3 linked regions of the Homo sapiens genome follow. The protein of the gene in region 2 interacts with the protein of the main gene of each other region in a biochemical or structural test. Each region holds a gene or a part of one and is shown on either strand. Other genes may lie near its edges.

Region 1 (4,193 bases), on a different chromosome or scaffold from region 2:
CAACTACTTGTCAGGCTGAGGCAGGAGAATCACTTAAACCCGAGATTTGGAGGTTGCAGTGAGCCAAGATCATGCCACTGCACTCCAGCCTGGGCGACAGAGCGAGACTCTGTCTCAAATAAACAAAAAGAAAGAAAGAAAGAAAAGACAGGGCAGAGGTGAAGGAAGGCAAGGTGCCCAGATGGGTGTGTCATACTCACTGGGTGCTGCTCCTCATAATAAGCCGCCACTGTCTCCAGGTAGCCCTCTTTGAAGTCGTCCTGGGGAGAGGAGGGCACAGGGGGTTCATGCTGCTCCTGCCTGCCCCCTTCCCACTGTGGCCCCCACTGGTCCAGGTGATTCCCAAGGGGACCCGGGGCCCAGACCCAGTGTCCTGTGGAGCCTAAGACCCAGGGACTAAGCTTGGTGGAGGGGGAGGCCACGGCTCACCTCCAGCTCTGCCAGGCTCGACATCACCTGTTAGGAACAAAGCACTCGGTTCCAGGCCCAAGCCTCCTCTGCACCCCACATCAGTCAGTCCTCAAGCCCAGTGAGTCCTCAGCTCCCACACACCCCGAACTGGGCCCAGCCAGGGGCCCGGGCCACGTCTGGCACCCCTGTTGTTTCCTCAAGGAGCCCTGGGGCTTGGATGCCTCCCTCAGTCTCCCCGGGCGTCCAGATCCCCCACCCGCCCACTCACTGCCACCCAGGTGCAAGCATTTGCCCACGGTAAGGGGTGAGGGAGCCTGTGGGTCCCTCTTCATCCTTCTCACCCTGAGCCCCACACAGGGTGGAGTGCCTGGGGGCGGGGACATGTGACCTGGTGCCTGAGGGGAAATCCACCCACCTGTCCACGTCCTGATTCTGCATTTTGCATTTTATCATAAAATCTTTCTATGGCCTGGTGCTGTGAAGAGAGGCAGAGTTGGCACCAAAGGGCCGGATCCTTGTCCCTCCAGGGTCCCAGGTGTCCCACAGTGTCCTCAGTGTCACACGCTGAGACCCAGGCCCCCAACCCCTGAGCAGAAGTAGGGAGGAGCATTACCATTCGGGCCTTCAGCTTCTTCATGTCATCAGAGAGGACCTGCGGAAATAACGGTGACACTCAGTCTCCATGTGTCACCTTAACCTTTCCTCCAGGATAATTTATACACACACACACACACACACACACACACACACACACACAGAGACACATGGCAGAGGTACAGGATAAGAGGAGACAGCAGTCCCAGGAGCCCCTCACAGCCTGGAAAGACCGGCCAGGGCTGTCCTCGAAACGACTCAGAAAGCGCTTCTCTCAGGAGCCGGCTCAGCTGGGCAGGCCCAAGAGCAGGGCCAGCATGGGCCTAGGTGACCCCTCCTCACAAGAGCAGGGCCTGCGTGGGCCTAGGTGACCCCTCCTCACAAGAGCAGGGCCTGCGTGGGCCTAGGTGACCCCTCCTCACAAGAGCAGGGCCTGCGTGGGCCTAGGTGACCCCTCCTCACAAGAGCAGGGCCTGCGTGGGCCTAGGTGACCCCTCCTCACAAGAGCAGGGCCTGCGTGGGCCGGGGTGTCCTCCCTGCACACACACACCCCCCCATGTACACACACGGGAGGATGGACACTGTCCTGGAGCAGGCTGGCTCAGCTGGGTTTCCCACAACCACTATGGTCCCAGGTGAGAGTTGGCCAAGGAAAAAATGTTTAGGGACATGACAATTGAGAAGGTAACAGCAGCCATTCCTCTCTGATGAGCTGATTAATATTTGGGGTGCCAGGTAGGTCCACCCTACAACCTGCCACTCTTCCCGACTGCCAACATGCAGACCCACAGGTCCCGGGCCATTCCTGCCTGCAGACACGTGGCTGCATCCACAGAGGCCAGAGGCACCCCACAGAATCCCCGCTGAGCCCCCACGTCAAGGGCCTAGTCTCGGGGGTGACATGCCTGGTTTCCCCCACTATAGAGTGGTGACAGTCACCCACAGAGTGCGCAGGGCCTGGGGACATATTCTGGGCAGGGCAGCTGTCTGCACACTTTCAGGCAGCGATGGTCCCATCCCGCTAGCCTGATTTCCCAGGAACCAGGGTGAAAGCAGCACCGTGCCGACATGCGGGAGCCATGTGTCCTCCGGGTCACTGTCCTGAACCTGAGCCAGGCCACATCATGGAAACCCCTATTGTCACAGGCCGAAGAGCTCCCTGGAGGGTGTGGTGGGCCTAGCATTTGCGGTGGGGCAGTGGTAGAGGATGGGAGGTCGGAGGGAACCCAGGAAAGGAGGAAGAGACACCAGGACCCACACAGGCCTTGCTCTTGGGCCCACCCAGCTGAGCCGGCCTCTGAGAGAAGCATTCTCCGAGTCGTTTCCAGCAGAGCCCTGCCCCACCCCTGCCCCGGGCTTTCCGGGCTGTGAAGGGCTCCTGGGACAGGTGCTCCCTCTCATCCACACCCCTGCCGTTCTCCAGCGCCCCCGACACATATGACCTCCAGCGCCTCCACTGACACTCTCACCCCATCACTATCCTCCTGCCGCTGGGTGCCCCTGACTGAGCCCTGACACACAGGCACCTCGGGAAATACTGAGGGCACCCGCACCCTTACGGTCTGTTTTCAGACATGCCCACAAAAGCACACGCAGCCTCTCACTCACCTTCGGGAAGCACATGGCGGCCAAAAGTTCAAGGAGCCAAGGCCTGCTGGCGAGGAACAGGTGTGAGGAAAAGAAAGTGTCTCAGAGAAGCACCCTCCTCCCCAGAGGGTCCTCACCTTCGGGGACCCCAACTCCCCACCTGAGATGACCCAGCTCCACTGAGACAGTCACCTTCTGCACGCAGTCTTCCTGGCACAAATACTCAGCTGGTTTTATGGGGAAAGTGGGGGGTAGTGGGCGGAGCCTCTCTCAGGGCAGGAGGCCTTGCTGAGTGCGTGAAAAACAGACAGAGACAGAGACAGAGACAGAGACAGACAGAGATGGAGACTTACCCGAGAGAGACAGAGGTCTGGGGTCCCTGGGAGGAATGAGGGTCCGTCCCTGGCTGGGCCCCTGCTCCCTCTGAGCTGGGGTGGGAGTCTCTGAGCCCAGGAATGGGCTGCTTTCCCCACCCCACCAGCCTGAGAGTGGGGAGGGGCAGAGGGAAAGTCCAGACTCGGGACAGCTGGCTGGGGAAACTCCCTGAGTACAGGAAGGTGACGTCAGCCAAGTGGGATCCAAGGACAAAGGAATTTGGACCCTGTCCTTGCATGAGGTGTGCCCCGGCTCCAGAGGCCAGAGAAACTTCTGGATCAGAAGGAGGCAGGAACTGCCGGACCTAAGAGGGGCGCCGTGAGGGCAGGGGCCTGTGCACGTTGGAGGGGTGGCTAGTGGTGATGTAGATCTACCTGTGGGACAAGATAGGACCCTCTGCAGGGTGGAAGGCATCCTGCCGGCTGTCTGAGCTTGGCTGACCAGGTCCTTCTGACCCTTCTGGGCCAAGGCAAGGCCATCTGGGGCCGAAGGTCACTGGTCTCAGCAATCTTGGGGCTCCCCTACGGGCTCTTCTAGCTCCACGGGTTCTGACCCTCCAGCCTGGCTGGGCCTCCCACCTCCTCCTCACGGCCCCCAGCCCCCTTCCCCCAGCTGAGCACAACCACGCCCTTGCCTTTGGGATGGTTTCCTGGGGCCAAACTAAGGAAGTACCACGACAAGGGGCCCTAAGTCGAAGACGTCTCTTCCCTCACGATCTGCAGGCTGGAGGTCCAAGGTCAATGTGGGCAGCGTGGGGTCCTTCTGAGGGCCCGGAGCTGGGATTCTGTTCAGGTTTCTCCTGCCCTTGTAGATGGCCATCTTCATCTTCATCACGTTCTGCCTGGGTGTGACTGTCCCCCTTTCCCCTTTCCAAAGGACACCAGTCATATTGAAATAGGGTCCACCCTAGGCCGGGCGCAGTGGGTCACGCCTGTAATCCCAACACTTTGGGAGGCCGAGGCGGGCAGATCACCTAAGGTCAGGAGTTCTAGACCAGCCTGGCCAACATGGTGAAACCTTGTCTCTACTAAAAATACAAAAATTAGCCTTGCGTGGTGGCCGGCACCTGTATTCCCAGCTACTCGGGAGGCTGAGGCAGGAGAATCACTTGAACCCGGGAGGCGAATGTTGCAGTGAGCTGAGATGGTGCCACTGCACTCCAGTCTGGGGGACAACAATGAAAATTCCCCTCGGAAAAAAAAAAAAAAGAAGTAGGATCCACCCCA
Region 2 (2,339 bases):
CTGCCTGGACTGTGCCCCCTGCCTGGCAGCCCTTCGGATGTTTCTGTTCACACCTTGATATGCAGCTCTGGCACTGCCACCTCCTCCAGGAAGCCCCCCAGGCTGCTTCCCCATCCCCATCCCCTTCCTCAAGGAGTCCCTGAGCCAGCAGGGACAGTTCTAGGAAACGTCTGGGGCGAGTCCATTTTCCAGATGAGGAAACTGAGGCACGGAGATGAATAACAACCTGCCCAGGGCCACCCTGATGGGGCCGGGTTAGAACCCACAGCCACGAGCATCCAGGAGAGAGACCCCCTGCAACCTGGGCCCCCATCCCCCGCTCCGACTCCCCCCATCCTGAGTTTGGGGCTCGGGGACTTGAACCCAGGGGACCTCTCCCTGGTTCCCTCCCTATATGGGAAGGACAGACAGGAGCCAGGGGGAGTTTCAACGTTTATTGAGGTCACGGTGGGCAGTTCCCCCTCCCCTCCCTATATGGGAAGGACAGACAGGAGCCAGGGGGAGTTTCAACGTTTATTGAGGTCACGGTGGGGTGAGGTGCAGGGCCGGCCTGTCTCCCGGAGCCCCGTGGGAGGGAGTGTGGGGGGACGGGTGGGGCCGTCCCGGACGCCACAGTGTTCGGGGAAGAGCTGCTTCTGTCCAAAGATCCGCCTCGAGGGTTTGGAGCCAGGCTCGGGGTCCCGGCCAGCGCTGTGGGAGGGGCGGTTCAGGGGCGGCCCTTGGCCTCCACACGGCGCAGCGTGGAACGGATCCAGTCCACGTAGAGGGCTACCCGCGTGAAGAAGTCAGGGAAAAGGCGGGTGGCACATCCCCAGATCACGAAGGAGTCTATTCCTTGGATGATGCCATCACAGATCAGGGGGCCACCTGAGTCTCCCTGGAGGACAGGGACGGCCAGTCACCCATCAGGGGCCACCTGAGTCTCCCTGGAGGATGGGGACGGCCAGTCACCCATCAGGGGCCACCTGAGTCTCCCGGGAGGATGGGGACAGCCAGTCACCCGGGCTGGCCCCAGGCAGCCAGGAAGGGGGCTGGGGTAGCCACAGCTGTTTCAGAATAAAATGCTTCCAATATGGAACTTTCTTTCTTTCTTTCTCTCTCTCTCTCTCTCTCTCTCTCTTTCTTTTTCTTTCTTTCTTTCTTTCTTTCTCTCTTTTTCTTTCTTTCTTCTTTCTTTCTCTCTCTATCTCTTTCTTTCTTTCTCCTTTTGTTTTGTTTTGTTTTGTTTTTGTTTTGTTTGCGACAGAGTCTCGCTCTGTCACCCAGGCTGGAGTGCAGTGCCGTGATCTCGGCTCACTGCAACCTCTGCCTCCCGGGTTCAAGTGATTCTCCTGCCTCGGCCTCCCGAGTAGCTGGCTGTCTTTCTCTCGAGACAGGGTCTCGCTCTGTTCTCCAGGCTGGAGTGCAGTGGCACAATCATAGCTCACTGCAACCTCGAACTCCCCAGGCTCAAGTGATCCTCCTGCCTTAGCCTCCTGAGTAGCTGGGCCTACAGGCTCACATCACCATGCCCAGCTAATATTTAAATTATTTGTAGAGATGCCACCCTGCTATGTTGCCCAGGCTGGTCTTGAACTCCTGGACTCAAAAGATCCTTCCGCTTTGGCCTCCCAAAGTGCTGAGATTACAGGCGTGAGCCACCACTGCTGGCCTGGAATTTTCTTTAAAATGTGTGAGCACCAGCCAGGCATCACTTGATGCCAGGAGTTCAAGACCAGCCTGGTCAACATGGAGAAACCTCATCTCTACTAAAAATACCAAAAAAATTAGCCAGGCACGGTGGCAGGTACCTGTGCACCTAGTTACTCAGGAGGCTGAGGCAGGAGAATACCTTGAACCTGGGAGGTGGAGGTTGCAGTGAGCTGAGATCTCACCACTGCACTCCAGCCTGGACAACAGAGCGACACTCCGTCTCAAAAACAAACAAAAAGTGTGAGCAGGGAGGGGCTGAGGTCTTTCGTAGGAACTGGGCATTTATGGGCCTCCCGCTGGATACCTGGAGTCCTGGATTCTGGAAGGGGCCGCCGGTGAGGGCGGATGGGTCTCCCACACCTTCCTGTGGTCCTAGAGGGGAGTGGGGGGCAGGGAACCCCCAGACCCACCCAAGCAGCCAGGTGCAATGTGAGCGCCCCCACCCCGCTGAGCCTGCCCGTTGGGTGTTGGGTGTGCCCACCTTCCAGGTGGGGAGACTGAGGCACAGCATGAAGCCACACAGCTAAGAGGTGGCGTGGAACCCTGGCCGCCGCCCTCCTCCCCTCATGGCAGCCCGGTGCCCGGGGTGGGGGCACGGTTACTTACGAAGCAGATGCCGGCCTTGCGGCGAGGGACGAAAGTGCAAA
Region 3 (3,500 bases), on a different chromosome or scaffold from region 2:
TTTGTCCATGCTAAGATGAGAAATTAGCACCTCAAAGAGGTAGAATGCATTGTTTTTGTCAAAAGCTAATTGTGTTAGAGGCAGGATTTGAACCCAGGTCTTTCAGATTGCAAAACTGATACTGATTCTGGGACACTAGAGTCGTGTAAAGTATGTTCCATGAAACTATCCCTTTATGCAGTGTATTACAATTTGTTCTATAGTTCTAAGCATTATATATTCTACATATACAGTATACACAAGGACATTAAAGGCTCTGAAAAGTTCTGCAGAGCTGTCAGTAGTTTTGACAGTTTAATCTATTATTTCCTCAAATTACTCAATGATGGAAAACATTTTAGTGTTTGTGTGTAGAAAACTGAAGAATCCACGCTGAAAAGCATTGCTATGGCCCATAATGCATTGCCAAGGAGAGTTCAAGAACTGATGGTTTGAGAATATTTTTGCTTGTTTCTATGGGAACAGCTCAGGCTGGTTGAGCAACCTTACCTTTAAAGAAGATGTAATTCACCAGAGCAAAAACTGTGTCTCTGTCAAGCTCCTTGACCAAATCCACAATTTTCCCTTGAGTACCCTTCTCCACGTAATCGTTGATCTGTTTCTTGGCCTCTTCGGTGTCCCCGAAGTTGACAGTGAAGGCTTCTGAGTGGTACAACTTTTTAACATCCTCCAAAAACTTATCCACTAGCTTCAGGCCCTCGCTGAGGAACAGGCCATTGCCGGTGGTCAGCTGGAGCTGGCTGTCTGGCTGGTTGAGGGTACGGAGGAGTTCCTGGAAGCCTTCATGGATCTGAGCCTCCGGAATCTCCGTGAGGTTGAAATTCAGGCCCTCCAGGATTTCATCGTGAGTGTCAGCCTTGGTCCCCAGGGAGAGCATTGCAAAGGCTGTAGCGATGCTCACTGGGGAGAAGAAGATATTGGTGCTGTTGGACTGGTGTGCCAGCTGGCGGTATAGGCTGAAGGCGAACTCAGCCAGGTTGGGGGTGATCTTGTTGAAGGTTGGGTGATCCTGATCATGGTGGGATGTATCTGTCTTCTGGGCAGCATCTCCCTGGGGATCCTCAGCCAGGGAGACAGGGACCAGGCAGCACAGGCCTGCCAGCAGGAGGATGCCCCACGAGACAGAAGACGGCATTGTCCTGCAAGACAGAGATGGGGGGGCCAGGCCCCGAGTCAAGGCACATGATGACTCCCAGTGATCAGGGATTGACACCACGTGGAAGTGCCTAGGGATTATTAAACCAGCCTGTGCCAAGTACTTGCCGACATCAGTAACACTGAAAGAATCAGAAGAATAGCAAAATGTACGTAGTGCTTACCATATGCCAAGCACTGTTCTCCGTGCTCACATGTGTTAATTCATTGCTTTCTTGTAACAATCCCGTGAGGTGCTAATGCTAATATCCTTCTTTTACAGATGAAGAAACCAAAGCCAGAGAGATTAGGTCAGCTATTCAATGTCACTGAGGAAGTAGCAGAACCAGAATCCTACATCTAGGTCCTGCACCCAGGCTCTGGACAGCAACACTTACATCTGCAATGACCCTAAGATGCAAATGGTACAGCCATTGTTTTACAAAAGAAGAAAATGAGGCACAAGAAGAGGAATGGGCCTGCCCACGATTATCCAGGAATCGGGCCAGATCAGAATCAAGAATCATGTCAAGCTGGAAGCCCTTGGAGGGCTTCTATCTAATCCCACTATTTAGTGGCCAGGGAAACTGCTGCACAGAAGGGAAATGCATCTTGCACAATGGCAACAGCTAGAGAGCATGGAGGGGCTGTGATTAAACCTCCTGGGAGCTGTTCCCACCCAACACTCACAAGGATCCTCAGCCCTTAGGGTTTTTTTCCCAAGAGACGGGGCTGTCCCCACAATGCTCTGTGGTCCCAGACACAAGAATAGGCTGATGCTCCTGCAGTCAGCTTACCTGCCGTCTGGGTCACTAATGGTGTCCCAGTTCTGGGCTCTTGCTGTCAGGGGCTTTAGAGACGCTCATCTCTCCTTGAAAGCAGGGGTTTGTGCTGCTTTAAAGTAGATGGAGGAGGTGGGAAGTGAAAAGACACCTCTTTTAACTTCAGATAGACCTGGGATCTAATCTGACTCTGTCACTTTCCAGGTGTATGAGCCAGGACAAGTCATTCATCTCCCTGGTCCTCATTTTGCCTCATACATAAAGTGATGTTTATGTATGAGAATTTAGTGAAATAAGTCTCAACACCAAACCTTACATCAAAAGGATCTGAGAGGGCAACTCTTTTGAGGGAGGGGTTGGCAGGTGTTGCAAATTCAAAGGCTTCAGGTGATAGGCCAGTGAGGAATACATGTTTCATACCCGGGGCTGAGACAATAGGGAGTGGTGGGGCCTGTGGCTGAACCAGCGAGAGCAGGCTCTGCCGAGCAATGGTCAAAGTCAACGTCATCCACAGCAACACAGAACCTGCCCTGCCCCACAGTGATCCTTCTACTCCAGATATGCCCAGGCTTCGGACCACCAGCCTGCAGCCCCCTAGGTAGAACCTGCCGTCTTCACAGATGGGAAAACTGAGGTCCTAGCTGAGGAGAATATGCCCGGCAGCCACATTGTTAACTACTAGTCACAAAACCAAAACCATCATCTTAACAAAATACAAAGAAAAAGGTGTCCTTGAATTTGGGAAATGAAAAACTGGAGAAAAAAAGCTGGAAATAACAAATATTGAGATTCTTCAACCCCCTTGGACTTTTAAAAGTTTCCTTCCAATAAAGCAACAAATGAAGTGCAAAGCTGGTTTCTCTCCACCACCTTTCTCCTGGCCCTCGTGCCTCTAAGTAATCCAAATGGAACAGACCACACATTACATAATACATGTTTGTATTTTTCTTCAGCTAGCTAGTGTTGTTAGAACTAAAGACGGTGCTAAAATTAGTGCTGTATATTTCCATCTCCCTTTAATTTCTCTTTCACTTCCCAACTGAACTTTGTGCAGTCCTTCATGGCTTATGGAAATTCCCCCATCATTACAGGGCTCAGTGGTCAGGAGGGAGTTGGGCCTCTGCAGGGTGGGGACACTAAATATGCTGAGTGGCCTCAGGGCCAGAGGTTGTGGCTTCTAGCCCTGGCAGGGCCATCACTATCCACTTGGCCTTTAGCAAGAATCCTCTGGTCCTGGGGCCTCACTCTCCCCAGTTGTGCAAAGTGGGGCTGGGAGAAGACTTCACTGGGGCCCTCTGTACACTAACATAGGTTTTTGGGTTTTTTTTGAGACAGAGTCTCGCTTTATCTGCCAGGGTGGAGTGCAGTGGCGTGATCTCGGCTCACTGAAACCTCCACCTCCCGGGTTCAAGAAATTCTTCTGTCTCAGCTTCCCAAATAGCTGGGATTACAGGCGTGTGCCACCACGCCTGGCTAATTTTTGTATTTTTAGTAGAGCTGAGGTTTCACCGTGTTGGCCAGGCAGGTCTTGAACTCCTGACCTCTTGATCCGCCTGCCTTGGCCTCCCAAAGTGCTGGGGTTAC

What was found. Proteins that work in one complex are often made in the same cells at the same time.
Region 1: the proteins of PRTN3 (region 2) and IL32 interact in a biophysical measurement, tested with the Homo sapiens proteins (one study listed by IntAct).
Region 3: of the proteins of PRTN3 (region 2) and SERPINA1, one has a biochemical effect on the other in vitro, tested with the Homo sapiens proteins (one study listed by BioGRID).

The regions. Positions count from the first base shown.
Region 1 is NC_000016.10:3,064,247-3,068,439, reverse strand, and holds the start of IL32 (interleukin-32), read right to left. Parts: upstream 2,801-4,193; 5' UTR 2,753-2,800; exon of another isoform or gene 2,657-2,752; 5' UTR 2,629-2,656; coding exon 2,614-2,628; intron 1,064-2,613; coding exon 1,025-1,063; coding exon of another isoform or gene 887-1,024; coding exon 827-886; intron 457-826; coding exon 430-456; intron 261-429; coding exon 201-260; intron 1-200.
Region 2 is NC_000019.10:846,337-848,675, reverse strand, and holds the end of PRTN3 (myeloblastin precursor), read right to left. Parts: coding exon 2,299-2,339; intron 927-2,298; coding exon of another isoform or gene 906-926; exon of another isoform or gene 878-905; coding exon 707-877; 3' UTR 501-706; downstream 1-500. UniProt on the Homo sapiens protein: Serine protease that degrades elastin, fibronectin, laminin, vitronectin, and collagen types I, III, and IV (in vitro).
Region 3 is NC_000014.9:94,382,103-94,385,602, forward strand, and holds part of SERPINA1 (alpha-1-antitrypsin precursor), read right to left. Parts: intron 1,278-3,500; exon of another isoform or gene 1,140-1,277; 5' UTR 1,136-1,139; coding exon 490-1,135; intron 1-489.